Regions from separate parts of the Homo sapiens genome. Here all the other regions are linked to region 3. The links come from fine-mapping of genetic effects on gene expression. A gene starts in region 3. Each other region holds a variant in brackets. All regions are shown on one strand. Distances are between the middles of the regions.

Evidence for each region. PIP is the estimated chance that this variant, and not a neighbour inherited with it, causes the effect.
Region 1: its variant is the best candidate, but not a certain one, in a credible set for the expression of SUSD3 in lung (GTEx, PIP 0.85).
Region 2: its variant is the best candidate, but not a certain one, in a credible set for the expression of SUSD3 in whole blood (INTERVAL, PIP 0.59).

What each region holds. Positions count from the first base shown.
Region 1 is chr9:92,877,529-92,887,586 of GRCh38, forward strand. It overlaps ZNF484 (zinc finger protein 484), which reads right to left and starts at 510. Exons shown (of 5, transcript NM_031486.4): 1 at 362-510. It also overlaps the pseudogene SPATA31B2P. RefSeq lists enhancers at 265-800, 314-753, 5,089-5,606, 5,607-6,123. The variant C/T (reference allele first, on the strand shown) is at 5,026.
Region 2 is chr9:93,012,891-93,022,948 of GRCh38, forward strand. It overlaps FGD3 (FYVE, RhoGEF and PH domain containing 3), which reads left to right. Exons shown (of 18, transcript NM_001083536.2): 9 at 962-1,108; 10 at 2,847-2,939; 11 at 5,246-5,325; 12 at 6,941-6,971; 13 at 7,427-7,534; 14 at 9,437-9,499. LOC101927954 (a long non-coding RNA gene) reads right to left here and starts at 2,054. Exons shown (of 3, transcript NR_121565.1): 1 at 2,037-2,054; 2 at 301-1,604. RefSeq lists a silencer at 2,446-2,682 and an enhancer at 8,980-9,880. The variant T/C (reference allele first, on the strand shown) is at 5,868.
Region 3 is chr9:93,052,440-93,062,497 of GRCh38, forward strand. SUSD3 (sushi domain containing 3) reads left to right here and starts at 6,262. Exons shown (of 5, transcript NM_145006.4): 1 at 6,262-6,391. The coding sequence starts at 6,304. RefSeq lists silencers at 5,977-6,426, 6,437-6,846 and enhancers at 6,357-7,337, 7,338-8,318, 8,387-8,436, 9,827-10,058.

The sequences.
Region 1 (10,058 bases), 170 kb before region 3:
ATATAAACAGATCGGTACGTATAAAAGAGAGGAAACTAATTAAGATGTGCATCATTCACACTCCTCAGATCCCTCCTTAGTTCCCATAGTCATCCTCCCCCACAACCCCACAGTCCGCCCTCACTCCGCCCTCAGATCCACCACCAGACAGAGACCCCCAGTCCGTCCTCACTCCGCCTGCAGATCCACCACCAGAGACCCCTCAGTGCCCCCTCACTCCTCCCTCAGATCCACCATCAGAGATCGCTCCGACTTCCACTATTCCATCCACTGACCGACCCCATCACTGACCGGAAGGCTCAGGACAGACATCAGAGATTCTTCTTGCTCAGTCCACAGATGCTGCCATCCCTCTACTCACCTGCCCCTCACCCACGTCCTCTCAGGACAGTGGTCATTTGCCTCGGGAGGTGACTATAGTCGCAAGAACCAGAACAGGACCCACTTCCTTTTTCTCAATGCCTCCCAGGCCTAGAGGTACTTCTTACAGCGCTGCCTGGGTTTGCGCATGCTCAGCAGTCTTCATGGCCTGAAGGTTGCCAGTAATCAACATGGCGCTTTGCCAAACACGCTCCCGTTTCAGCGGCTTAGGCTGGGCGCCAGTATGGCGGCGCCCATGTAGACACTCTGGCCTGTGGGCGGCCATGTTGAGGTCATGTAGAGACTGAGAGGCTGAGGGTTGTCCAAAGGAAAGGAAGCAAGCAGAGGTGTGTCCCATCATACTAAGCCAGGACACAATCAAAGCCTATCACCTCAGGTTACAGTCTTTCTCCAATGCTTCTGTGGACACAACAACACTGTTAATCAACAGGAACTAATCAGCATTTATGTAACACCGCAAACGCAGCCGAATACACATTTTATTCGTGTCGATGGGACATTTAGCAAGATATGAAGTAACCTGGGTCATAAAACAAATCTCAGCAAATTTGAAACAACTGAAATCATACAGTTTGTTCTCTGAACACAATAGAATTAAACTAGAAATCAATAACAGGAAGATAAAAGGAAAATCTCCAAACACGTGAAAACACATGCTAAATAATCCATTGTTCAGAGAGAAAGTCTCAAATTTTTAAAATACATTGAAATGAATGAAAGTGAAAGTGAATGAATTTTTAAAATACATTGAAATGAATGACAGTGAAACACAACATATCAAAATTTGTGGGATGTGGCTAAATCAGTGGTGAGAGAAAAATGTATATACCACTAAGGGCTTACATTAGAAAAGAAAAAAATTTCAAAGCAATAACCAAGCTCCCTCACATACTAGAAAAAGAAGAGCAAAATAAACCGAAGGCAAGTGAAAGAAAGGAAATAATAAGGATAAGAAGATGACTCAATAAAATGTAAAAAGAAAAATAGAGAAAAACCGATTAAACAAAAGCTGGTTCTGTAAATGTTAATAAAATTGACAAATCTGTAGAGGAGACACAAAATATCAATATCCAGAATGAAACAGGAGATACCACTGTAGACCATGACGAAATCAAAAGAATAAAGAGAATACTACAAACAACTCTACAAACATAAATTTCACAACATAGATGAAATGCACTAATTCTTGAAAAAGCACAAATTCTCTCTTACATGAAATAGTTATGTTGAATAGCCCTAGAACTGAAGTCATAATTTGAAATATCTGAAAAAGAAATCTTAAGGCCTGGATAGCTAGATCAGAGAATTCTAACAAACATTTAAAGGTTAACACGAATTATATCCAGTCTCTTCCAGAATAAAAAAAGAATAGAAAGAAGACAATAGAAAGATATTCCAACTCATGAGGCCAGTGTTACTCTGATATCAGAGCTAAAGACAGAAGAAGAAGAAATCAGTATTCTTCATGAATATAGATGGAAAAATTCTCAACCAAATAATAGCAAAAATAATTCAACAATATATAAAAATAACTACAAACCATGAACAAGTGATATTTATTCCAGGAATAAAAAGCTGTTTTGGTATTCAAAAATCAATTTGTGTAACCCCCCACATTAGCAAGCTAAAGATAAGCATATTACATGATTATATCAATGCAGGAAAAGAATTTGAGAAAATTCAACACCCATTTATAATGAAAAAAAAACTTTCAGGAATTAGGAACAGAGGTAAACTTTCTAACTTTTAAGTTAGAAAAAAATCTACAGCTAATGTCAAACTAAAAGATGAAAAAGACTGAATGCTTTCCTGTTCAGTTTGGGAAGAAGGAAAATATGTCTGTGCTCATCATTTTTATTCTACACAGTTCTGGAAGACCCAGTCAGCTGACAAAAATTCTCTCCATAACCAGACTCTAGCCATGCTCCTTTGAACTCTCTTGTCAACTAAACCCTGGCTTTTGGGCTTTTGTGTTGTCTGTGAATTGCCCAATATTAGTAAGAATCCTAGCAAGGCAATTTAGTCAGAATCCTCCATCTTCGTATCTGATCACCATTGATATCTAATTGGTTTTCTTATTGTCTACTATCCCCAGGTGATATCTGATCACTCTGGCATGGCTTCAGCAAGAATTCTGTGAGGTCAGTTTAGCCAGATTCCCTCCTATTAGTAATTTTCCGTACACTACCACCCCTCCACCCTGCTCTGTGGCTATAAAATTTCTATTCAGAGGGAAACCTGAATATATGGAAACTGGAGATTACTGCAAGACCCTATTGCAGTAATCTCTATATCTATTGCAATAATCCCTCTGAATAAAGTTTGTCTTACTATTTTTTAACAGGTGTCACGAATAGTTTTTTCTATGATACAGCTCAACAAAACAAGTCTGAAATAGAAGAATAAAGTGGGAGGAATTATTCTACCCAATTTTTTAACTTTTTACGTAGCTACAGAAATCAAGACAGTGTGGTATTGGCAGGGGTATAGACAGTTCAATAAAACAGAATTGAGAACTCAGAAATATTTCCATACAAGTACAACCAACTGACTTTTGAAAAAGATGCAATATCAATTCAATGGTACAGTGGTTCTGGAGCAGTTAGATACCATAGACAAAACAATGAACCTCAATCTAACCTCATGTCTTTATTTAAAAAAAAAAGGATCAGCCAGGCGTGGTGGCTCACGCCTGTAATCCCAGCACTTTGGGAGGCCAAGGCGGGTGGATCACGAGGTCAGGAGATCGAGACCATCCTGGCTAACAAGGTGAAACCCCGTCTCTACTAAAAATACAAAAAAATTAACTGGGCGTGGTGGCAGGTGCCTGTAGTCCCAGCTACTGGGGAGGCTGAGAGAGGAGAATGGCGTGAGCCCAGGAGGTGGAGCTTGCAGTGAGCTGAGATGGTGCCACTGCACTCCAGCCTGGGTGACAGAGAGAGACTCCCTCTCAAAAAAAGAAAAAAAAAGATCATAGATCTCAATGTAAAAATATGAAATTTAATGATAAATTCTTCAGGTCCTAGGACTTGATGAATAATTATTAGACATGACACCAGAAAAGCACAATTAATTATAAGAATTTATTAATTGGATGTTATCAAAATTTAAAACTTTTGCCCTGCATAAGAGCCTGTTAATAAAAAGACAAGGTAAAAACTGGGAGAAAACTGCAAACCACACCTGATAAACCATATCTGACAAAGAGGTCATATCTAGAATATTGTTTAAAGTTTTCAAAAGTCAACAACAACAACAAGGAAAAACAATCCAATTAGAAAATGGGCTAAAGGCATGAACAGATATTTCACTGAACAGGATATATTGATGGAAAATGAGAAAATAAAATAACTTTTATCAGAGGAATGTCAGTCCTTTTAAATTATCAAGCCCAGAGAGACGTTAAAATAAGACAGCAGGCCCCATGCGGTGGCTCATGCCTGTAATCTCAGCACTTTAGGAGGCCAAGGCGGGCGGATCACGAGGTCAGGAGATCCAGACCATCCTGGCTAACACGGTGAAACCCCGTTTCTACTAAAAATACAAAAAATTAGCCAGGCACGGTGGCAGATGCCTGTAGTCCCAGCTACTCCGGAGGCTGAGGCAGGAGAATGGCGTGAACCCAGGAGGCAGAGCTTGCAGTGAGCCAAGAGCGCGCCACTGCACTCCAGCCTGGGCGACAGAGTGAGACTCTGTCTCAAAAAAAAAAAAGGAAAACTGCATGTCCTGCACATGTACCCCTGAACTTAAAATAAACACATAAGTACATAAATAGAATTTAAAAAAATCTTAATTGTATGTGGGTAGGTCCCTTTGATTGAAAGTGAGATAGAAGGCTGGGCGCAGTGGCTCACGCCTGTAATCCCAGCACTTTGGGAGGCAGAGGCGGGCGGATCACGAGGTCAGGAGATCAAGACCATCCTGGCTAACACGGGGAAACCCCGTCTCTACTAAAAATACAAAAAGAAATTAGTCAGGCGTGGTGGCGGCGGACGCCTGTAGTCCCAGCTACTCAGAAGGCTGAGACAGGAGAATGGCTTGAACCCGGGATGTGGAGCTTGCAGTGAGCCGAGATCAGGCCACTGCACTCCAGCCTGGGCGACAGAGAGAGACTCCTCAAAAAAAAAAAAAAAAAAAAAAAAAAAGGAAAGTGAGATAGAAATAATTTTTTTAAAACTTACTATTCAAAATTTGCAAAACTAAATAAGAGTAAAAGAACTTTACATTTTGTCCCTGGATTGATATAAGACAAAAACATTGTGTGGGAAAGCTGGAGTTGAGGACAAATGAGATTCTGAGAATAAAAATCCCTGGTACATAGCCAAAATTTCAGAGTCAACTTCAGATTTTCAAGGGCCATAAAATAGGTAACCTCAAGCCACCAACTCCAACAGATAAAAGGAACCAGGTAATATGTGTTCCAGGGAGAAAGAATAGAAAATTGGCTGAGTTCTATCACTGACAAAACTTAGCGGGAAGGAGAGATCTGGAAGGTGGGAAGGTGGAGGGATCCCCGGCTTGGGGGGTGGGGAGGGGCTGTGCTTCGGTCTCCCCCTCCTACTGCCCCTCCCCAACAAAGGAGCCCTTTGTGATGTGAAGGCCCAGCTCTGTGATGCAGGCCTGGGCCCCAGTCCCTAGCCTCCA[C/T]GGGGATGCCCAGAGCTCAGTTGCTTGAAAGCAATGCACCTATTCACATGGAGAATCTTCCCTTTCCTCTAAAATTACTTAGTCCCTCATCGCTAAACACCCCCAGCTCCACACCATGGGTGTTGGATATCTTCCTCACCTTGGTGTTTGCCCTGGGGTTCTTCTTCCTATTACTCCCCTACTTATCTTACCTCCATTGTGACGATCCACCCTCACCATCGCCTGGGAAGAGAAAGGTAAGGAGCCCTCAGTCCAGACCCACAGAGCTTGATTCTCTCCTTCCTTTTTATTATTAGTTCCACTTTTCCAAATCCAGTGGAGGGACTTCTGCGATGGGAAGTCTCAGGAGAGACCGGAACATCATGCTTCCAGGGAGAGGCAGGGCAGCCAGGGGTTGGTAGGGGTAGATTGTGTACAGGGATTTCCATCCCAAGCCCTCAGTCCATCTGTTGGGGAGCGCAGGAGGCGTGAAGGCAAAATCAAACCCGTGGGCTCAGCGGCCAGGAATGGTCATGAGACGGGGGAGGTCTCTGGTCATGAGACAGGGGAGGTCTCTGTCCGAGGCCAGGCCCTAAGCCCTGGCTCATCAGCCCCTTCCTGGGGCAGGTGGCTTGGGGCCCAACCTCCTCTGTGTGGGGTGATATGGGGCCTGTGCTGGGCCCCCAAGGGCCTCCCACCGGGGCCTGGCATCTCCTCTTGTCTCCTGGGAAGCAGAATCCTACCTGACAGCTCAGTGGTGCCTGTGGGCCTGAGCCTGGGTGTTCCAGGAGCAGAGGAACAGGGACTGATGGCGTCCATGGTGGACCTCATATTGAAAATCCCTCTGTGTGTGTCTGTGTGTGTGTGTGTGTTATTTTTATTTATTTTATTTTATTTTATTTTTTGAGATGGAGTCTCACTCTGTTGCGCAGGCTGCAGTGAAATGGAGCGATATCTGCTCACTGCAACCTTTGCTTCCAGAGTTCAAGCTATTCTCCTGTCTTAGCGTCCTGAGTAGCTGGGGATTACAGGTGCCCGCCACCACACCTGGCTAGTTTTTGTATTTTTAGTAGAGACAGGGTTCCACCATGGCCAGGCTGGTCTCAAACTCCTGACCTCAGGTGATCCACCCACCTCGGCCTCACAAAGTGCTCGGATTATAGGCATGAGCCACCGTGCCTGGCCCCCTCTTCCTGTTTTTCTAAGAAGAAAAGCAGTTTATCATCCATTTAAACATGAATGGGAGGAAGCACACAGAGCTCCCTGAGCAAGACAGAGAGAGCCATGCGGTTCATGAGTGCAGAGTGCTGCGGCTGGGCTGGGGGTGGAGAGGGAGAGCCGGTCCTAGCTCCTCGCCATTTCTTGTCTCCCAGTGTCATCTTGTCTCCTCGCGTCATCTTGTCTCCCAGTGTCCAGTAGGGCAGAGGGGGATGCCCAGAGGCAGGATGAAAAACCACAGTCTTCAGAGGTAAGGCTCTGCCAGGGCACACTAGAGTTAATTTGATCTCGTCTGTCCCTGAGGGAACTGACTCTGAAGAAGTCAGTTGAAGAAGCCTGAGGTGGGGGCTCCTAGGAAGGAAATCAGAACCCCGGGTCCTTCTCAGATTCCATGCCGGAATGAAGCCATGGTGGGCCAGGGACTGAGCGTTACCCAGCAGGGGGCAGTGTGTGTGTTCTGGGGAGACCAATGCCTGCCTGGATGCGGAGGGGGTTGAGGGGGCCTCCCGCTCCCTGGGAACAGCTGTTCAACTCTGCTAAGGCTGATTCCTCTTTGAGACCACCCCAGTCCTTTCTCCACACAGGGCAGTTGTGAGGACTATGGGGGTGGGGGGCCTGTTTGTGGAAGCCCTTTGTGAATGACAAAGCCCTGTCCTCCATGCCTTGCTATTACCATCGGGGCCATGTGGCTTTGGACACAGATGGGTGGGTTCCAGGGTCTAATTCCCCATGGTCTTCCCTGAAGAAACATACACTCAGCCTCCTGTGAGATCCCAGGCCCCTCCCTCACTGCCCTAACCCGGTCTGATTTCCAGCTTGTAGAGAGTGCCTGAGAGGCCTGGAGGAGACTTGGGACCTGCTTTCACAACTGCAGAGGTGAGGCACTTCCCCTTCCCTGCATCCTTCCTACCAGGGCTGGGATGCGACCTCAGGGCCATAGGCAGCCTGGAGCTGACCTGGGATGGGGAGACCAGGGGGACAGAGGATGAGAGTAAAGGCCTGGGGCAAGGGGTAGCAGGAGAATTGGGCAGTCAGGGTGTGGGGTGGTGGAGGGGCTGTGGCCCGAGCGCCCACTCTGACCTCCGAATCCACCTGCTCCTGGCTGCAGCTTGTGCCTCCTGTCTCCTGCAGCCTCCTAGGGCCACACCTTGAAAAAGGTGACTTTGGTCAGCTCTCCGGTCCAGACTCCCCAGGTGAGGTGGGCAAAAGAGCACCTGATGGAGCCTCCCGGTCCTCTCATGAGCCTATAGAAGATGCTGCTCCCATTCTCTCCCTGTTAGCTTCCCCGGATCCTTGAACCAAGCATCCTCAGGATCTGGCCTCCACCCCACCACCAGGCCCAATGACCACCTCAGTCTCCTCCCTAAGTGCCTCCCAGCCACCAGAACCTTCCCTTCTCCTAGAACATCCCTCACCCGAGCCACCTGCACTTTTCCCTCACCCACCACGCACTCCTGATCCTCTGGCCTGCTCTCCGCCTCCTCCAAAAGGCTTCACTGCTCCTCCCCTGTGGGACTCCACTCTGATAACTCCATCTAACTGTGACTCAGTGGCACTTCCACTGGACACTGTCCCTCAAAGCTTGACTCCACGTGAGGATTTGGCAGCTTCTGTCCCAGCCATCTCAGGTCTTGGCGGCTCAAATAGTCAAGTTTCTGCCTTCTCCTGGTGGCAGGAGACTACCAGAACCTGGTGCGTCTTCAATTCGTCAGTCCAGCAAGATCATCTTTCCCGCCACCCACCAGAGACCTGTCAGATGGAAGCTGGTAGACCATTTTTGCTCAGCTCTGATGGCCAGGATGTCGTGGGGATACAAGTCACAGAAATCAACATTTGAGAGGAAAAAGAAAATGATGGACGATTTCCAAAACAGCCCACAAAAGCACTTGAATGCTTTGGGGAATTTGGTTAAATCACTGGATGCTGAGCAGGACACCACAAGCCCAAAACCCTTCTGGAACATGGGAGAGAACTCAAAATAGCTGCCCAGTCCTCAGAAGCTCTCAGATCCTAGGCTCTTGCAGGAAAGTTTTCAGAAGAATTATAGCCAGCTTTTCTGGGGCCTCCCCTCTCTGCACAGTGAATCTCTGGTGGCTAATGCCTGGGTCACTGACTGTATGTAAGGGTCTTACATCCTTACATCAATGAAATGTCCAATGTCTGCCCAATTCAAAGGGAGACTACAATGTCCCCACTGCTTTTCCAGGCCCAGCCCCTGTCCCATCTGGGGCCTGAGTCCCAACCCTTTATTTCATCCACACCCCAATTCCGGCCCACACCTATGGCTCAGGCCCATCTTCAATCCTCTTTCCCAGTCCTATCTCCTGCTTTTCCATCCCCGATGAAGAACACTGGAGTAGCTTGCCCTGCGTCGCAGAATAAAGTGCAAGCTCTCTCCCTACCTGAAACTCAGCACCCTGAATGGCCTTTGTTGAGGAAACAACTATAAGGTGGGTTGGCTTTACCCCCTAGGGTCCAAAAATCTCAGGACATCTTTAGTGTCTCCACTCCTAACCTTCCCCAGGAAAGGGGACACCCATTCTGCCTGAGAACTTTCCAGTCAGTCCTGAACTCCAGAGCAACATATTGAAAAGTGGTTCATTCAACACCAGGGCAAGATTCAAGAGTCTCTGGATCTGATGCAGCTTTGGGATGAATTGCCAGGGAAAAGTCAGGCGAAGGGCAAACCCAGGTCCTGGCAGTCCTCCATGTCCACAGGTGAAAGCAGCAAGGAGGCACAGAAGGTGAAGTTCCAGCTAGAGAGGGACCTGTGCCCACATCTGGGGCAAATTCTGGGTGAGGCCCCGCAAAATCTATCCAGGGGCATAGAAAGCTTCCCAGGGAAGACTCTGGGGGTGACCTCTGAAGAGTCAGAAAGGAACTTGAGGAAGCCCTTGAGGAGTGACTCGGTAGGGATTTATTAAGACTCACGGACAGGAATCATATAGAAAACATCCTGAAAGCCCACATGGGTAAGAGGTTGGGCCAGACCAACGAGGGCTTGATCCCCGTGAGTATGCATCGATCCTGGCTTGCTGTCAACCAGGCTCTTCCCGTGTCCAACACCCACATGAAAACCAGCAATCTAGCACCCCCCAAAAGTGGGAAAGCCTGTGTGAACACAGCCCAGGTGCTTTCCTTCCTTGAGCCATGTACTCAACAGGTGCTGGGAGCCCACATTTTGAGGTTTTGGGCCAAACACAGGTGGGGTCCACCCCTCAGGGTCCTCAAGCCCATTCAGTGCTTTAAACTGGTTTCATCCTTGTGCAATACACAGCTTGCCGGTCCCTCCTCAGCCACCTGTGAATCTGGGGCTGGCTCAAAAGTTGAGGTGGCCACGTTCCTTAGAAAGCCACCAATGGCAAGTCTGAGAAAGCAGGTGCTGACCAAAGCATCTGTTCACATGCCAGAGAGGCTTCAGGCCTCCTCACCTGCATGTAAGCAGTTCCAGAGGGCCCCACGAAGGATCCCATCTTGGAATGATCATGGGTCCTTGAAGGCTCCTACAGCTGGACAGGAGGGCAGGTGGCCATCTAAGCCCCTCACATACAGCCTCACAGGCAGCACCCAGCAGAGCAGGAGCTTAGGAGCCCAATCTTCAAGGGCGGGAGAGACCAGGGAGGCAGTGCCACAACCCAGAGTCCCCTTGGCAACCTGTATGTTGGCAAACATCCAAACCACAAGTGAGGATGTGCGTGGTTTCGAGGCTCCAGGGGCCAGCAAAAGCTCTCTCCTCCCTAGAATGTCTGTCTCCCAAGATCCAAGAAAGCTGTGTCTTAGGGAGGAGGTTGTTAGTGAATTTGAGCCTGGAATGGCCACGAAGTCAGAGACCCAGC
Region 2 (10,058 bases), 40 kb before region 3:
CTTGCCCAGCCCTCCCAGTACATTCCAGGTGCATGCATTTCTCCACTATTAGACACCAGCTGCACACGCAGCTCCCCAGTACATACCAGGTTCACACCCAGCCCCCCTGGTACACACCAACTGCACACCCAGCCCCCAGTAGTGGGCAGGTGCACACCCAGCTCCCCTGTGTATATACCAGGTACCTGCCCATTCCCCCAGTTCTCAAAAGACCCTCACCCCTACCCTAGTCTGCTCCTCTAAGCTCTCTGCTGCTGGCTCCTCTGGTGCCCCCCACACCCTGTGCCCACTTGCACCTACCTGCATTGGTGCCAGAGACGGAAGGGTCAGCCAAACCCAGCCGCCTCCAGGATGTACAGGCTGAGATCACTCAGGTCCAAGGACGGGGCTTCCAAGGCACAGCAGGTACAGACTCAGACATGTGGCTGTTGTCGAGGTTGCCGCAGGCTCACCTCTGCGTTCTGCTACACTGGCGTCTGGCTCAGAGCTGAAGCATGAGCTTTGACGCTGTCCCATCGCACTTCTGGGTGCTGGTTACCCATGTGACCACCCCACCAGTCACCATGGTCAGGGGAAGGTGACATATGGATTGTCCGAGTCTGGGTCTCAGATACTCAACTGACCGCTCTGTGCCTCAGTTTCCTTGTCTGTAAAATGAAGATAACAATGGCACTCACCTCACTAGGTGAGTTAAAACATGTATCATGTAGAACAGCACATGGCTCACAGCAATGGTTAGCTCTGTTCCTGTTTATCGTTGTTTTTATGCTCTGCATGGTGAACTCCTATTCATCCTTCAATACCCAACTCAAACATCACTCTGTTTTCCCTCCCACCCTTGTCAGTAGCTCATTGCCCTCTCTGGATTCTGGGCCACGGTTGCAGGGAAGGACTCCGTGCATCTCTAGGTCACCAGCCACTCTCACAGACCTTTGGTGCCTGAGTCCCATGTCTCTTGCAGGAGAAAATGCACAAGCTCTTGGAGGTGTACGAGCAGCTGGGTGGGGAAGAAGACATTGTCAACCCGGCCAATGAACTGATCAAGGAGGGCCAAATCCAGAAACTGTCAGCCAAGAACGGCACCCCCCAGGACCGCCACCTCTTCCTGGTGAGCCTGGCCCCTGCCAGCCCAGCCGCAGAGCCTCCCTTGCCATTTGCCTCAAGCCCAGGGCAGTGCCAGGAGGGCTCTGGCTGCCCAAGGACATGGCTCTTCTGTGGCCTCTCCTACTGGGACTGTGGCTCCCTCTGAGACCCTCAGCATCCCTCCCCCAGCCATAGGGAGCCTCCCTCCTCCACATCCAGACACCAAACTTTTGCCAGTGGCTCTTCCCCATTTGCTGCAAATATCTCATTTTTTAATCCCTCGTAGCCCATACCTCTTTCGTCCCCAGAACTGAGCAGACTTCAGCTTGTAGCAACCAGGACAGCACAGAGAACTGTAGCAGTGAATCACAGTTTCAACTATTCCTGAGCCAAACCCTGGCCGGGAGGGAGGGGGAAGGTGGGATGGAAGTGTAATTCGAGACCCCCCCGGGTGCCATGGCGCGGTAGAAACAGATGTGGTTCTTCTTTCCTCCTCCATTTTCCTCTAGCTTCTGATTCTCCTTGAATAAACAATTATTTCTTTGAAAGGTTTTTTTTTAAGTTTTTAAAAATTACGTTAACTAAAACTCATTTTTGCTTTACAGTTCTGAGTTTTGACTAATACAGTTGTGACCACAATCAAGTTACAGAACAAGTTTTTTTTGTTTGTTTTTGTTTTTGTTTTTAAGACAGAGTCTCGCTCTGTCACCCAGGCTGGAGTACAGTGGCTCAATCTCGGCTCACTGTAACCTCCACCTCCCAGGTTCAAGCAATTGTCCTGCCTCAGCCTCCTGAGTAGCTGGGATTACAGGCGTGCGCCACCACGCCCGGCTAATTTTTGTATTTTTAGTAGAGATGGGGTTTCACCATGTTTATCAGTCTGGTCTCGAGCTCCTGACCTCAGGTGATCCACCCACCCAAAGTGCTGGGATTACAGGCGTGAGCCACCTCACCTGGCCAAGTTACAATTTGATCACTGCCCCCGCCCACCCCCCCAGTTCCCTTGTCCCACCCCTTTGTGAGCAAGCGCTCGCCTGCCCTGGCAACCATGGATCTCTTCTCTGTTTCTAGAATTTTGCCTTTCCCAAATGTCACATCAATGCCATGAGATGAGTCTGGCTCCTTTAGCTCACCATGTGGGTTTGAGAGATTCATCCATGTTGGTGAATGTATCAGTAGCTCATTCAAAAGATTTGGTTTGGCTGGACGTGGTGGCTCATACCTGTAATCCCAGCACTTTGGGAGGCTGAGGTGGGCGGATCACCTGAGGTCAGGACTTTGAGACCAGCCTGGCCAACATGGCGAAACCCCATCTCTACTAAAAATGCAAAAATTAGCTGGGCGTGGTAGCACCCGCCTGTAATTCCAGCTACTCGGGAGGCTGAGGCAGGAGAAGCTCTTAAACACGGGAGACGGAGTTTGCAGTGAGCCAAGATTGCGCCATTGCACTTCAGACTGGGCAACGAGAGCAAGACTCCATCTCAAAAAAATAAAAAAAGGTTTTTTTTTAAATTATACAATTAGCTCATGTTCATGGTTTAAAAATTTAAAAATAGAAATGAACAAAAATAAAGCTAGCGACTAGAGTCTCCTCACTCAAAGATGTAACCATAGTTAAAATTACTGCACATATCTTTTAAAAATATTTTTCACTTTATAACATTAAAAAAAAATGAAAAGGATCCCATGTGAGAAGCTCACTGGGGCCCCTGGGGGGACCTGCGGGCAGCTCTCGTTCCTCACCTGTGCCATCCCTCTTGCAGTTCAACAGCATGATCCTTTACTGTGTGCCCAAGCTGCGGCTCATGGGCCAGAAGTTCAGCGTCCGGGAGAAGATGGACATCTCAGGCCTCCAGGTGGGTGAGCTCCTCCATCTCAAACCTGTCCCCCTGGAAGGGGCACTGAGCAGGACTGGGGACACCAGGCTCTGGCCGCTGAGGCACTCACCTCTGTGCAGCCTGGCACCCCTACCTGCTTTTCCAAGCCATAGACCCTATCTGTGACCAAGGCATTGTCTCAGTCCTGGTGCCCCAGGCTGGAAGGGCAGGATTCCACCCTTCTCTGCTTGGCCCACCTGCCACGTTGCTGCCAACTCCCCTTTCTGCAGAGCCTTGGAGGATGCAGGGGGCAGTAGGGATGGCACCAGGACCTGGACTGAATCCTGTCACCTGTGAGACTGGGACTCGGGGCCCTATTTACAAACCCAAACATGAAGCCCAGGGTTGCAGGGAGCAATCCTGGCTGGGGCGGGGGCCGGCTTCCCTTGTCTGGTTCCTGGGTCCTGAGCTCTTTCCTGTCCTCCTGCACCGGAGCCGGGGGGAGGGTTCCAGGCAGATCTGTAGCATGGTCCAGAATGACCTTCTTTTTTTTTTTTTTTTTTTTTTGAGACGGAGTCTCGCTGTCACCCAGGCTGGAGTGCAATGGCATGATCGTGGCTCACTGCAACCTCCACCTCCTGGGTTCAAGGGATTCTCCTGCCTCACCCTCCTGTGTAGCTGCGATTACAGGTGTGTGCCACCACACCCAGCTAATTTTTGTATTTTTAGTAGAGAAGGGGTTTTGCCATGTTTGCCAGGCTGGTCTCGAACTCCTGACTTCGTGATCCACCCGCCTTGGCCTCCCAAAGTGCTGGGATTACAGGCATGAGCCACCGCACCCAGCCTAGTCAGTCATTATTTTTAATGGTATTTCTTAACCTGGAGTGCAATGGTGTGATCTCGGCTCACTGCGACCTCCACCTCCTAGGTTCAAGGGATTCTCCTGCTTCACCCTCCAGAATAGCTGTGATTACAGGTGCGCGCCACCACGCCCAGCTAATTTTTGTATTTTTAGTAGAGACGGGGTTTCACCATGTGGTCAGGCTGGTCTCAAACTCCTGACCTCGTGATCCACCTGCCTCGGCCTCCCAAAGTGCTGGGATTACAGGCATCAGCCACCGTGCCCAGCCATGACCGATTTTTTGTAGAGAAACACTAGAAAAGTGGTTTCTTCTAACTACTATAAAAAGCTGGGCACGTAGTTTCGCTGGCTCACGCCTACAATCCTAGTACTTTGGGAGGCTGAGGTAGGAGGATCACTTGAACCCAGGAGTTCGGGACCAGCCTGGGCAATGTAGTGAAACCGTGTCTCTATAAAAAATAAAAAATTAGCCAGGCATGGTGGCGCACATCTCTATTCCCAGCTACTTGGGAGGCTGAGGTGGGAGAATTGCTTGAGCCCAGGAGGTCAAGGCTGCAGTGAGCTATGATTGTGCCACTCACAGTGCTCCAGCTTGGCTGACAGGACAAGACCCTGTCTCAAAAATAATTTTAAAAATAATAATGAAACAACCTTAAAAAAAGGTATTTTCTCTAGTTAGTGTTTTTTTTCTTAACCTGAATTCAGAGAATTTCAAGGTAAGAAGGGATTTTTGGTGGCATTAAGCAAATGATTACATATTTTGATTTAGCAAATATTTTTGGAGCACCCATTAATTCAAAGCCCTCCCGACAGGGGACAGGGACCCATTCCAGTCCCCCAACTACCCCACTGCAATGAGACATGGAACAGGCGTGAGCTACTGCGCCCGGCCATGGTCTCTGTGGTCTTATCCTGATGGAAGAGGATGGAATCTGTGGCTGCGGTTCTATGAAGAAGTGACCCCATTTTCATTAGTTCTGGGCACACATTGTCCTATTTACATGTCTAATCTCAGGGCGCACCTGCTCAGGGGCTCAGACTCTGCAGGGTGGCTAAGGCCATCCTTGCTCTTCTCATCAGATCCCTTTCCATCCTAAGGGGACGTGGCTGCTGTGGCGGGCAGTGCCCAGTGGTGCCTGTGGGGAATGGCTTGGCTTTAAGGAGGATGGATGGGGCGACATGGGGAGGATGCCTGACGGGCTGGGTGTCGGGGGGGTGGGTTTGGTCAGCAGAGTTCCAAGCACAGAAGATGAGCGGTCATAGCTGTGTCTGAGCAGGATGGGAGGCCCGCTGTCCCTGATGGACCAGCTCATGTAGCAGCCACGCTGACCTAAGCCTCTGCACCCCTCTCCCTGCAGAACTGTGGGGCTGCAGGCTCACCTCTGTTACCTCCTTGGGGAAACACTTCTAAGTCAGAAAACATGAGGCTGGAGCTAAAATGACCAGCTTGGGTTTGCTTTGTTCTTTGTTCTTGCCCCTTCAGGTGCAGGATATCGTCAAGCCAAACACAGCACATACATTCATCATAACAGGAAGAAAAAGGTCCCTGGAGCTGCAGACGCGGTATGGAACGGGCTGTTTCTAGTGAATGTCTTTGACCTCATGTCTTCTTTTTCTAAACTGGTTAACCTTGTAATATATTTTTATTTATGCATGGCTTAAAATTTAAAAGTACTGTTACTGAAGCACCAGGGTTCCGTCTATGTCCTGCGCTTGCTGCACAGAAAGCCAATCACTGAGATGATTATTGCCAAGGAAGAAGCTTTAATTGGCCGAGGAGATGGGAACTCAGTCTCAAATCCATCTCCCTGACCAACTAAAACTAGGGGCATACACAGCAGGGAATAAATGTAACAATGTGTAAGAAAACAGGAACTAGGGAGGGGCAAGGAAGCAATCATGATGAATAAAGGGTCTGGGCATCTCATTGTCTGGATGTGGTGACCTGGTGAGTTTCAGTCCCTTGATGGTTTTTTTGAGAGGCCTGAAGGTGTTTTCTGAGGAAGGAACTCAGATAAAACAAATGTTAACTTTCAAGCTTTAAGACCAGAAGGGTCAATTTGTATGTTTATCAGATAAACTATCTATGGGACTCGGGGCGGTTT[T/C]AGTACCAAGGGAAGTTGATGAAAATTAAGCCTCTGCCCACCTCCTGTTCAGCAGGCCCAGCACGTTCTTAGTCCTCTCTTGAGTATCCTACGATTTTCTTTTCTTTTTTTTGAGACGGAGTTTCGCTCCCAGGCTGGAGTGCAGTGGCACAATCTCGGCTCACTGCAACCTCCACCTCCCAGGTTCAAGTGATTCTCCTGCCTCAGCCTCCTGGGTAGTTGGGATTACAGGCACCCGCCACCACGCCAGGCTAATTTTTTGTTTGAGTGAAAACCCAACGGGGTTTCACCATGTTGCCCAGGCTGGTCTCGAACTCTTGACCTCAGGTGATCCACACCCCCTCGGCCTCCCAAAGTGCTGGGATTACAGGTGTGAGCCACCGTGCCCAGCCCCTTCTAGGATTTTCTATGCACATGCACATATATCTATGTTTTAAATCACAGATGGCTGTTTACTGTATAACCTGTCCTGCACCTTGCTTTTTCACTTAATTTGTCAAGAATCATCCCATATCTGCACACCATTCCTAAAGCAACACAATTTTCCATTATGATCATTAGCTAGTTCCCACTGACGAGGACCTGCGCTCCTCCCGAACCTGGCCATCACAAATGCGGCTGCAAGCAGTGTCCTTGTTTTTAGGTGTTTCTGCATATGTGTAATTGTAGCCGTCAGATTGCTGACATAGATTTGCTGGTCACAGGGTAGTGCATCTGTTTGAAATGTTGGTGGCTGTTGTCACACTACCCTTTAAGGTGATGTCAGGCTGTGCTCTGACTAGCCATACATGGGAGTTCTGTTCTCCCACACCCCACCAACAGTGGGATCTTCATAATGACCCATTATGGTCCAAGGAGGCATTGAATTACAGCCACTGCAGAGGGCTCCACATGGCTCACCTGGCCCCACCAGGCCACGAGTGTTTTGAGGCCCTTGGGGCCAATCTTCCAATCCTTGAGCTGCGTTGACAAGCCAGTGCGTGGCTCGGGTGTGCTGCAGGGTTGAGAGAGGGCTGGTCATTTAGAGTCAGTATCCAAGACTGGATTAATACAAGACCGTTTTGGTTTTTTAGGACAGAGGAAGAGAAGAAAGAATGGATTCAGGTGAAGCTTCTAAAGTTGTAAAGTAACCAAATGACCAAGTGATTGAGCAGTAAGGCCATTCATGTTGGTTCAGAGGGTGGGGGCCCTGGCCTCCGGGACTGCTGGCCCTGTGCTGTACCCTGCAGGGATGCAGTGACCACACTGTGCCTTCATAAGCAGCTTCAGATGCCACAAGCCCTTCAACCCATTCATTTCTTTGAGGGCCCCCAAATAAACATGAGCGGGCCTGGTGGAGTCACAGGCCAGGTTCCCCGCTCAGGGTGGATCTCCTCAATCTGGACAGCTCCAAGGGGAGACCACATCATTGGTAGGGGGGAAGGGAGATGGCCAGTGGCCTGGGCATTGTTCTGGGAACGCCAAGGCCCGTCCTCGGGACAGAGGCAGGCGCGTCCCTCCTGTGGGTAGCATCCTCCCATGCCCCTTTATAGTCCTCACTGTTGTGTTGCTGTGTCCAGATCATCCAGGCCACCATCGAGAAGCACAAACAGAACAGCGAAACCTTCAAGGCTTTTGGTGGCGCCTTCAGCCAGGATGAGGACCCCAGCCTCTCTCCAGACATGCCTGTGAGTCAGTGGCCCGGGGTGCAGAGAGACCTCCAGGGGACGGGCTACCTGTGGAGAGCAGAAGGCACTGGCGTCTGGGTGGGCAGCTTGACCTCCAGGCTTTCCTCCTGCTACACCAGGGACCAGGACAGCGGGCACTCCCTTGTGTTAAAATAAAAACTTAAGACAAATTAAATTTAACAATTTAATTGAGCAAACAACTATTTGTGGATGGGATAACACCCACCCCCTACAACCCCTGAGACCAGAATAGGTCCAGAGAGCCTCCTGTGCTGCTGTGTGGTTGGAGAGGATTTATGGACAGAAAAAGGAAAGTGAGGCACAGAAACAGCTGGGTTGGTTACAGTTCCGCGTTTGCCTTATTTGAACATGGTTTGAACAGTCGGCCACCTTTCCATGGCAGCTTTAGGCTGAACTTAATTTCACCCCTACCCACCCTCCACTAAGTGCCGCTGCAGCCTGCTGGGCCCCAGGCCCGTGGTCAGCGCCCAGCTGGGCGGGAAAGCAGGATGTGGGCGTGGAGGAAGCGCTCCTTCATGACCTGTTTGGTTGTCTGGTGCCTTCTGCACAGCATCCTACACACAAAGGTATGTTACATCATCCCCACAGAAACTGAGTCTGAGGAGCTCTGTGACGTCCCCAGGCCATGGGTGGTGGAACTGGCATCACAGGGCTGTGGTGCGCTGCCCGCGTACCACTCTGTCTGGTCTAGCACAGCCTATGACTGCAGACACCTTTCTGTGTTTGTATTTCCCTCCCAGTGCCCCCGTGCCCTGGGAGATGGTGGCTCAGAGCCCCTTGAGGGAAGCAATAGGAGCATCTCACTCCCCATCCTCACGTGGAGCTGCCCCAAGGGCCCAGGGGGATTTCACATGGAGACTTAGGCTGGGAAAGAGGCGGGGCTGCAGGGTCCTTGCCGAGAAGCCTGGCCAGGGAGTCAGGGCTGCAGCCCCAGGGCCAATCCCCGGCCATTTCTCCTCCCGGGGCTTCCCTGGAGTCAGGGAGAGAGGATTGGGTGAGGAGGCCGATCTCTGCCCGCTGCGAGGAAGGCCCTGGAGTCACTGGCCCTGGACAAGGCATAGGGGTTGGAAGTGTAGCAAGGACATATCCAGGGAGGCACCCAGGAGAGACGGTGCCCTGAACCCTATGCCAGGCCCTCTGCTCCAGCCTTCACGGGGGCACCAGGCATGACTCAGAGTGAGGGTGCCCCAACTCTCGCCGCCTGACCCAGACCCCGCAGGCCTGAATCCCAACTCCAGGCTGGTTCTGCCCTCCCTACCACCTCCAGGGGTCTGCCTGGCACAGCCCACCTCCCCCATATCCACTTCATATTTGTATCAAGTCCGCTAGGTTTTTTCTGCTTTCTGCATTTACTTTGCAAGAACTTTGCACCATCCAGAAAGAAAGAGTCCTGGGACTGCCTTGAGTGGAGGTGACCTGGGAATGTGAGACACTGAGCCTGGCTGTCCTTAAGTCTGGCCAAGCCCTTTCTGTTCAGAGGCTGAGCCCGGAGCCTCACTGTGCTGAGAAAGTCGGGGAGCTGCAGAGACTCCACAAGGAACCCTGGAGGATGAGAGAGAACCCAAAGGGACCCTCCTTACTCACTGGGTGACTTGGTGTAAATTAGAGCCCCTGAATAGGGCGGGCCAGAGGGAGGCATCACCCACCAGCCACCCACCTCACTGGGAGATGCTCCTTCTAGGAGAGGCCTCCAGCTCAGGCCAGGCCCAGGGAGGGAGCAGCTTCCCCAGAGGCACAGCAAATCCTAGGCCTGGGAAATCCTGCTCCCGAGCCTGCCCTCAATGCACAGAGGTGCTGGGGGCTTCAGGAACTGTCCCCCCGCTGCACAGTGGCTGCGTGGCCCTGGAATCTCCTCTCACTCGGCCTCTGTGTCCCTTCTAGATCACGAGCACCAGCCCTGTGGAGCCTGTGGTGACCACCGAAGGCAGTTCGGGTGCAGCAGGGGTAAGTGCCCCATGCTCAGCGGTCAGCAGGGGTGAAAGGCAGAGCAGGGGGTCAGACCAGGATGACCTATAGGGAAGATGGAGAGGGAGGGTCAGACCAGGGCCTCCTGGAGGCGGAGGGCTGAGGGGCCAGTCTGCCCTGCTCACTGTGACTGGGGGCCTGGGTGTGCGGAGGTGAAGCTATGTCTGAGTCCAGGCACTGATGAATTGTGTGGTCACTGCAGGGGACTCTGTAAGGTGGGCACGCAGAGGCCTGTCAGTGTGGGGATGTCCATTACCTGGTTGGAGGTGGTCACACAGCTGGGCACACATGTGAGAATCTTCTGAGCTCCAAGTGAACATTTATGCTCTTAACATGTGTGAATCGTCCCATAAAGCATGTATTAACAGTGCAAGGTCCTTAGGAGGCTCGGTAATGCAGAGGACTGCTTAGTTCTTCACCCCAAGCAGCGGCCAGGGAGGCCTAAGCCTCCCTGCCTCTCCCCGTCTGTGTTCTCGTGTGCCTTATGGCAGCCAGCCCACAAGGGTGCTGCTCCGGCCAGGCAGACTGTGTCCACGCG
Region 3 (10,058 bases):
GGGTTTAACTTGGGTTTTTGTCCTTTGCAACTAAGGCAGCCACTTAGCAAATATGTGACTCACAAGCTTAAGCCTCAGTTTCCCATCTGTAAAATGGGGATGGTGAAGCCCTCATCAACGTAACTGGGTGATTATTAGAAAACTGGAGCTGCCAGCGCAGGCAGAGGGAGAGGCAAGTGTAGACAGGGAGCCGCCAGCAGCCCTTCCTGCTCTCCACTTTCCTCCAAAGATGCAGCAAAGCTCCATCTATCACAGGCTCCACCCTTGGCCCTGGGACAGGAGTCCTAGCATGCCCATTTTGTGTGGGGGAGTGGGAGGAAACTGAGGCAAGGAGAGCCCAAGTCACATGCCCAGGTCCCACAGGCTGACCCCAGACAGGCTCCAAAGCCTGGTTTGTAGGGAGACTCTCCCCTCGCCGCAGGCCTCAGTCTCCCCATCTGTAAAACAGGAGACTTCCAAGGAGCTTCCTAAGGCTGAGTCTCTCTGATGTCTCTGTATGGATGAGTCTCAGCCAGCCTTACAGGCCACTGAGAGGCCACCCGAGGGCCATATCCAGATGTAACCCCCATACCCCCTGGCGGGGGGGCGGGCAGGAATGCCTTCTCCAAAGGTATAAGCCAGGGAACCTCAGCAGCCTGAGCAGAGACTCTGAGATTCAGCGGCATGGCTGCCAGACACACTGCACCTGCCCCAGGCTGTCAGGACCCTCTGATTCAGCCCTTTTTGAGAGGAGGTGGGGAAACTGGAGCCCAGGGGGTGTGGGCTTACCTGAGGCCACCAGAGGGCTGGTGAAGAGGCAGGATGAAAACACGCTGAGCCTGGGGGCTGGTGAGGGCAGAGCAGCCACTGCTCTTTCGGGGGCAGGGTGGGAGCTGGCAGGAAGCCTGTGGGGAGGGAGGAGGCGAGGCTCTCACCCTTCTCCAGTGACCAGGCACTTGGCGGCCCACGCTGCTCGCTACGCAGGTGCCGGGCATCAAAGAAGCTTAACTGGCTCTTCAGCATTAAGCCTCGGGCTGCCCTTGACCCACCTGTGCACCCCCTGACCTGCCAGCTTAACTGGGAACAGCTCCAGGCCAATGAAAGCACAACCCCCCACCTGAAATCCTATGCTTGGTTGTAACTCCTTAGAGCATGGTAATGCCGTGTAATCCTAGCAGCCGAGGACCCAGGTCAGTCCACATCTTTCCCGACAAGTGAACATCAGAATGGCCGTGGGAAATTTTGCAATAGTTTACATTTACAAAGCATTTAAAATCCTTGTTTCTTATCAGAGAATAGATACATGCTCATTGTGGAAAATTCAGAAAGTACAAAAAGAGTTGAGGGGTGGGAAAAAAGATGACCTGCTATCTGCCAGCCCAGTGGTGGCCAGGTAAAGGCCTTGGTGTGCAGGATGAGCATGGGGGGAGCAGCCCCTGGCCAGAGTTTGTCCCTCCTAGGCCCAGCTGTATCCCAGCTTCTAAACTGGCCTGGCATGCAGTAGGTGTTTGGTAGTAGCTGTTCCATGAATCTGTCATTCCTTCTGCCCTCTGGGCGCCTTGCTTTGTGTCTCTGCATCACCATTTCTGAACCTGAGGGCGGCAGCTCGATGTCATGTCACCCAGGCTGACTGATCTGCTTGTGCAGGCTGCAGCCAGGTAGGACAGTCTGGTGGTCACAGCTCAGGCCCCAGCAGGGGAGTACCCCCGGGGAGGGGCCTTTGTCGCTCTGCACAGTGGGGACAGGGCTCTTGCCTTGCTTTAGGAGGATAAGTGGTGGGTGTTGAGGGCTCCAGATGGCCCAGCAGAAAACATTTTTGGGAAAATTGTTTTCTCTGCAAACATCTGGCCTGCTAGAGCTTCAAGGTCAGGTTACTTTTTTTTTTTCTTTTTTTGCTTTTAGTTTTTAAAAGGTAATACAGTTTTTAAAAAGAGAGGACACCCATGAGGCCACCAATGCTTCCCTGACTCTTACCTTTTGCAAAAGAACTTTCTGGACGTGGTCTATTGTGAGAGGTTTTCAGAACAAAAATCTCATTTTTCTATTGAGTAAAAACTAAAATCAAGAATAAAGCAAAACAGGCTGGGCGCAGTGGCTCACACTTGTAATCCCAGCACTTTGAGAGGCCAGGGAGGGTGCATCACCTGAGGTCAGGAGCTCAAGACCACTCTGACCAACATGGTGAAACCCTGTTTCTACTAAAAATACAAAAATTAACTGGGCGTGGTGGTGCATGCCTGTAATCCCAGCTACTTGGAAGTCTGAGGCAGGAGAATTGCATGTACCCAGGAGGTGGAGGTTGCAGTGAGCTGAACTCATGCCACTGCAATCCAGCCTGGGTGACAGAGCAAGACTTTGTCAAAAAAAAAAAAAAAAGGCAAAACAAACTGTTTTAGATTTCCACAATTATTATCTAATTTTAGAAAAACTCACCAAGCCAAGAACTCTGCCACCACCAGACTTCTGCATGGGTCCCCTCCCAGGCCACCATGGCCCATGGGTGCTGAGTCAGGCAAATCAAGGGTTGAGGAAGGCTTCCTGGGGGTGGCAACACCTCAGCTAAGGTCTGAGGAAAGAGGAAACTCCCAAGCCAGACCCTCACCTTCCTCTGGAAACCTCTGGCAGCGCACAAGACCCCCATGTTACAGAGTGGAACACTGAGCCCCAGGGCTGGCAGGCCTCCCCTGCCTCCCAGGTTCCATCCAACAAGTGTCCACTGACAGTGCACTGTGTGCTCCCAGTTGCAAATGGAGCTGGGAAGAGGCTGTGGCTTTGGTCAGTTCCTCAGGCTGTGCCTGACTCTGCTTCCTTCTCCCGGCCTGCCTCACCAGCAGCCAGCAGCCCATCCGTTCCTCCTAGCCTCCTCCCCTGCCTCCTCCAGCAGGGAAGCCCATATGTTTTGCGTTTTTTTTTTTTTTTTTTTTTTTTTTGAGACACAGTTTCCCTTTGTCACCCAGGCTGGAGTGCAGTGGTGCAATCTCAGATCACTGCAACCTCCGCCTCCTAGGTTCAAGCAATTCTCGTGCCTCGGCCTCCCAAGTAGCTGGGATTACAGGTGTGTCTGACCTCAAGTGATCCTCTCGGCCATATCCGGCCACATGTCCATAGCTCCACACCTGGCCACATGTCCTCTTCATTTCAGAGACGTGACACAGGCTGAGCAGGCCTTAAGGACAGGCAGCACGAAATGGCTCTGACAGGGAGTGCCATCAGGGAGGGCTCCATGGAGAAGGAGGGTGAGGAAGGCAAGGAGACACACCCAAGCAGGCAGAGCCTAAGCACTGCTCCCAGTTTGTGCCTAGACTTGGAGAGTCTGGGAAACCAGGCAACTAGGACAGCTGAGCGGGTGGGCCAAGCTCAAAAGCTGACGGGCCTTCACAGTCCAGCTTAGAGGCCACCACTCCATCCTGAGCACATCACAGTCTCTCACTTGCCTTGAGAGGGTGGCAGGACAATGTCCACCCCTCAGATGAGAACACGAAGACTCAGTGCAAGGGTGCCCACCCCTGCCCCAGGGATCAGGGAAGCCTGTCAGAGAGCCATGGTTCTCACCATGGAAGGGGGCACCCCAGGCGGTTGTCCCTAGTGGGCCAGTGCCGTTCTTTTCACATGCCTCAGTTTCGCCCACGTGCATGGCTAGAATAGCTGGGCTTTCTAGGAGCAAACCATTCCAAGGGCCTGGGAAAAGGTGGACAAGATGGCCCTGATCAGTGTTCAAATAGGTGACAGGCCCACCTCCAGAACCAGCCTCAGATCCCTCCCATAGCTCCTGAAGATGGCCTTTTGGCAGCAAATGGGTGTTCTGAGCCACAGCAAGGCATACAGTTCCCTGTGGAAACGACATGACAGAGGTCCTTAGGCCACCTCCAGGTCCCCTAACAGTACAAATGGAGGCCCAGCGCCACAAGCCTGAATGTCCACAACCCAACCAAGCGACAGACTGCTCAGAAAAACATGCTCTTTCCTCCTTGATCCCACCTGTCAGGGGCTGAACTGTGTCCCCCAAAATCTATATGTTTAAGTCCTAACCCTCAGTACCTCCAAATATGACCTTATTTGGAGACAAGGTCTTTACAGACTCTTCTTTTTTTTTTTTTTTTTCTTGAGATGGTGTCTTGCTCTGTTGCCCAGGCTGGAGTGCAGTGGCACAATCTCAGCTCACCACAACCTCCGCCTCCCGGGTTCAAGTGATTCTCCTGCCTCAGCTTCCCAAGTAACTGGGACTACAGGCACGCGCCACCATGCCCAGCTAATTTTTGTATTTTTAGTAGAGACAGGGTTTCACCATGTTGGCCAGGCTGGTCGCAAACTCCTGACCTTATGATCCACCTGCCTCTGCCTCCCAATGTGCTGGGATTACAGGCGTGAGCCACTGAGCCTGGCCGGTCTTTACAGACTCTTTATAGGGTCTTAAGTTAAGATGAGGACATTACGGTGGGCTCTAATCTAATATGACTGGTGTCCTTAGAAGAGAGATTTGAACACAGAGAGACACAGGGAGAGCACCATGTGTAGACAGGAGTTAAGTTGCCACCGGCCAAGGAACTGCCAGAAGCTGGATGATACAAGGAAGGCTGTTCTCCTGGAGTTTTTGGAGGGACTGCAGGCCTGCCGACACCCTGATCTCAGACTTCTGGCCTCCTGAACCATAAGACAATAAATTTCTGTTGTTCTCAGGCACCCAGTCTGGGGTACTATGTTACACAGCTCTAGGAAACACACTTCCTAAATGGCCAGGTGTTTAGCATTTGAAGGCTCCTGAAGGCCTGGGTCACAGCGTGGTGGCTTAGGGAGCTGCAGGCAGCCTGGTGTTTTCCATCCCCACCTAGCTCCACCCAGCTATTGGAGGGCTGCCCCAGACCTCCCTCCCAGCCCTGTCCATGCACCTACAGGCAGTGGCCTTCTGCCTGGTGGTGCATGGTGGGCAAAACCAGGGAAGGGACCACACAGGCCTGAGAGGTGGGCTAGGGGCCACTTGGCAAGACATTCTGGGGTCCCAGAGTGTGGTCTGGAGTGGGCACTGCTGATGGCCCTGCCCTTCCCGACATGGCAGAAAGAATACACATGCTTGATTTTGAATAAAGGAGATTGAAGTAAGCCATCGTGTGTGACCCACAAGTCCAAGTGGGAAGAACATATCAGGGGTGACGCCAACCCTGATGGCGAAAGGGGGAGGGCCCCTCACGTTTCACACTGAACCTCAGCTTTGGAGGGCTCGGAAAGCAGAGACGGGGAGGGGCTGCCCTGCTGGAACCCTGCTTCATGGTCCACCTGAACATCCACACTCTTCACGGTCACCTGCCAGGCACTCTAGAGCCAGCCTGGCCCACCTGGGCCACCTTCTGCGCTCCTGGAGGCATGCCTAAGCCAGCCGCACTGGGCTTCTGCTGCCACACATTGCCAAACCAGGGCCTTTGCACCTGCTGTTCCCTCTGCCAGGATTGCCTTTGCCAGCTCCACAGGAATAGGCATGGCTCAGGTGGTCTCCCACAAGCAGCCCAAGATCCAGGATGTCTGAGGCCTGACACCACACCCAACCCTTTGGTGGCTGCCTGGGCAGGGGGCTAAGCCTGGGTTGGGTGGGGTCAGAGGGAGAGAAAGAGCCCGGATCACAGCTCTGGGCCTGCTGCAAGTGGAGCTGGGTGGGAAGGGGAAGCCAGGAGAAGGGAGGCCTCCAGGTGTGGTGGGCCCTGCAGACAGACCCCAGGGCTTTCCATCCTGTTTCCCCCAGCCGGGGGCCCCTCAGTGAGAACCGAAGACAACAAGGGCACCCAGACCTCAGTGTGCCTCAGACGGCCTGGCCCAGTGAGAGACAGGGAAAGAAGGCTGGGTCCACACAGGACTCTGGGGGTGAGTGGGTTACGGGAGGGGCGGGCCGGGGAGGCGTTTTGCTGTTTGCCCTTTGGTACCGGCCGAATCCGGCACCCTGAGAAGGCAAAATCCTGCTCAAAAAATAAAAACACAGAAGCACATGGAAAAACCACACTAGGAGTGAAGGTGAGAACAGGAAGGGATGGGGGAAGGGTGTTGGGCAGAGGTAGCCACGCGTGCAACGCCCCGGAGTAGCAACACTTTCCGCTCAGCCGGCTGCCTTGGCCCGCTGGGTATTTGGTCTCCCCAAGGGCCCCCGCCCACAGCCCCCGGCCGGACCTCGGCCCCAGTCCAACGTGTGGGCGTGGTCTGTAAGTTGCATGGAACCGCCCCTGGGCGGGCGTGGAGGGCGGGGCCTCCCCGCCCCTCACCCAGGCCCAGGCCCAGGCCCCGCCCCCACAAGCCGGGCTCACTCCCCTGGCAGACCCCGCCAAGCGCCTCGGAGCGCGCAGGATGCGCTGGGCGGCCGCCACCCTCCGTGGCAAGGCGAGGCCCCGGGGGCGGGCCGGGGTCACCACGCCTGCCCCAGGGAACCGCACAGGTGAGGGCTGGGGCCGAGTGGCCGCGTGCGGGGCTCTGCGCCCATTTCACAGACGGGAAAGCCGAGGGGAGGGGGTCGCGGGGCCGCACAGCCGTGGGTGGGGGCCACAGCAACGATCTGCCCCGAGGACGAACCTCCTCGACCCTCCGCCGGCCCAGCAGGCGCCCTAGCGGAGCCGAAGCCTGGCAGCGAGCAGTTCGAAACCAGGCGGCTGCACGCAGCAGCCCGCGCGCCCGTTCCCGAGTGGCCGCAGCGCCTTGGTCCCGGGCGTCTGCGGACAGCGCGGCCGGCCAAGCCTCTCCACGCCGCAGGCTCCGGGCCCCTCCGCGCCCCTCCCGGGGAAGTCGAAACCGGCCTCACCTGGCGGGCGGGTGGCGCGGGGGCGGGAGGGGGGAGCCGGGAGCCCTCTCTGCGCCTGAGGGAGGTGTCATCTTCACGATTCCTTGGTGACCAGCGCAGCTCCACTTTACAGATGGAGAAACTGAGCCTGCGAGAGGGGAGTGGCTGTCCGAGGTCACCCTGTAGCCAGGCTTGGGATCGCCTCGGCTGTCTCGGAGGAGGCTCAGAGGCCTTTGGAAGGAAGAGAAGCTGCTTTTTATTTTACTTTTAAGTGTTTGAATTCAAGAATGTGCTTAAAGAGTTGTCTGCTCCCGTGCCCAAGGCTCCGGGGTTCGAATGCTGGCCTTGCTCCTTGAATGATTCTAAAGTCTAACCCTTTTAGAAACGGAACCAAACCGGAACTCTGGGTCTCAGATATCCCAAAAGCTTACTTCCGCGGCCACTGCCCACGAACGTTAGGCCTGAGGGTTCTGGGCGTCTCAGGCGTTGCGGGGCTAAGGCTCTGCGCAGGAGGAAGCTGAGGCCCGGAGTGGGGTGGGCTGGACCAGGTCACACTGTCAGCCTGCAGCCCCAGGGAACTGGCAGGAAGGTGGCAGGAGAATGGCTTCCTCTCACAGTTGGGGAAACTGCGGCTCAGGGAGCTAATTCACCGAGCAGAGGTCCGCAGCTCAGCAAAGTGGGCGCTGAGACTTGTTCCTGGCGCTGGTGGATTTGGTTTATTTAGTTTGACTCTGGCAGCCTAATGTCCAGAGTCCCTAATTTGGTGTTGGGGTGATGAGCACTTTTGCTCCTGTGTTTGAGCAAGGCCTGCCCAGGGCCTGGTACTACCTGAGGAGCCCCTTCTACTGGCACAACAGCCTGGGGGCGTGGGTGCCAGTGCCCTTTGGATAGCCTTGACTTGCCCAAGGTCAGCCCAAGGCCAGGGAGTATCTGGAGGCTCTGGCATATTTGCATACAAAAGGCTGTTTGCCTTGGAATTTGTGCTGGGAATGGAGCTTAGTCTGGCACCCTGTGCTCTTGTTCATCCTGCCTGGCCCTGGCTCTGCCTCTGACCACCATGACCACTTCCCAGGCACTGGCCCCCTTGTTGGAGTTTTGGGTTAGGATCCCCCCTGTGACCTGGGGTGAGTCGCTGTACCTCTGTGCCTCAGTTTCCCCATGTGCCCCAGTTTCCCCACTGTATACCTGCCCCCAAGCTTGTGGACAGGCCCAGTGGAGCCCAGGGAGGGTACTTGTTCTGGTGCAGGGATGATGCCATCATCTGGACTCCATCACTCCCCTGCCATGTGACCTCAGTTTCTTGCTCTGTGAAATGTGCTGTGAAGTTAGAGGCTGGGGGGTTGGGAGCCTTTGGAGAGGATTTGACACTAAAACACCACTGACCAGGAGTGGTGGCTCATGCCTCTAATCCCACACTTTGGGAGGCTGAGGTGGGCGGATTGCTTGAGTCCAGGAGCTCGAAACCAACCTGGGTAACATAGCAAGACCCCGTATCTACAAAAAATGCAAAAAAAAAATTAGCTGAGCATGGTGGCATGCGCCTGTAGTCCCAGCTATTCGGGAGGCTGAAAGGTGGAAGGATTGCTTTCGTCCAGAGTTCGAGGCTACAGTGAGCTGTGATCACCTCACTGCACTCCACCCTGGGCAACAGAGCGAGATTCTGTCTCAAAACAAAACAAAAACCAAAAACATAGCACGGGGATGTGTGTTTTTCCCACCATCTTTAAAATGGGGCCATTACCACTGGTTTTCCTAGAGTAGATATGAAGAGCACAGTAGTGTGGACAGACTGATCTTCCTGAGAGGCAGGAAGTGGTCTTCCCTCATCTCCCATGAGCGCCCTGGGAGAAGGGCAGGGCGCGGGGGAGACTAGCTCAGAGTAGGAGTTTATCATGTTTGTTGTATGACTGGCCCCTGGCCCTGCTCCCAGGTCAGCCCCAGCACTCCCTGATCTGGGAGATTGTCCAGGAAAGCAGGGTTCCAGTGGCTGTAGGTAACCCCCCTGGCATCCGTGGAAGGGCCTTGGAGGAAGGGCCTGGAGAGGGGGTAGCAGGAGGCATGCTCTGCTGGTGCCTTCTTGGCTTCACCCCTGAACTCCTGCCCCAGAACTGGACTGTGTCCATTTTACAGAGGAGAAACTGAGACCCCGTGAATGCATGTGTAAATCAAAGCAAGGCAGACACACCCTGTGATGCCTGGCTATGGCCTCCTGCCACCCATTGGCATCGAAAGAGCTGCTGGTAGAAGGCATAGGTTCCCGGACCCTCGGTTTTCCACCAGGGATGTGGGAGTACATGTTCCTCATTTGGAATTAGCCCAGCTCTTTTATGGAGGATTGTGTGCTTTCCACATCCTGAGGCCACCCTGCTGCTCAGCCTGGAGATGGAAGGCAGAAGTGGCTCTGAAGCCTGTGCTCACCCTCCATGTGGAGATGGGCTCAGAGAGGGCAAGTGACTTACCTGAAGACACACAGCCAGGGCTGTGGGACACCCACATGTAGTGTTGGGGCCAGGCCTGTCCCCACTGCCAGGGTCTTGGGGGTCCTGTTCTCAAAGCACCTCTGTGTGCAAAAGTCACCCCCTTTAAACTCTGAGAAATTCCTCCTGAAGGTTCCTGTTTCACATTTGGGGGAACTGAGACCCAGATTGAGGTCACACAGGGACTCACTGGCAGGTGGGGATCGAGTCTAGGTGAGACTGGGTTCAGCAGCCTGCCTCTGTCACTCTCTCCCACAGCCTCAGCCAGCATAAAAGGGAACATAGTTACTTAATCCCACAGCAGGCGAGGTCAGGTTATAGGGGCTGTGTGGCGAATCCCAGGAGGGAGGATGGAGGGGCCGACCTGAGGTCCAAGGTTCCAGATAAAAGATTAACAAGTACGGATTGTTCTCAGACGCCCGGCTGGCCTCACAGGCTGGGAGGATGAGAATCCACCCGGTCAGGCTTGGCCCCCTCCGTACATAAGGCCAGGGAGGGAGGAAGCGCAGCTGCAGCAGGTGGCCAGGCAGAGGCGCAGGCGCGGCATGTGGGCTGAGGGCCGCTCAGGCATCACACAGGTGTGGCCCTGAGGTACCCATTGGTCCTCTCCACCTGCCCCTGAGCCGTGGGAGGGCCAGGCAGGGCCTCGTGTGTTTTTATTTTGTATCTTGTTTGCATCAAATCCGTTTTCTGTTGTTTTTCCCTCTTCTTTAAGATTTACATGCAAAGGGATCTAAAGGGTGCCAGGTAAGAAATGCCCCAGCACTAGGCTGGCAGACCAAGGGCAGCCACAACCATGGGCTGGGGAACAGCAGGTGGGTAGGATGGGGCTGGAGGGCAGGACGGATCCA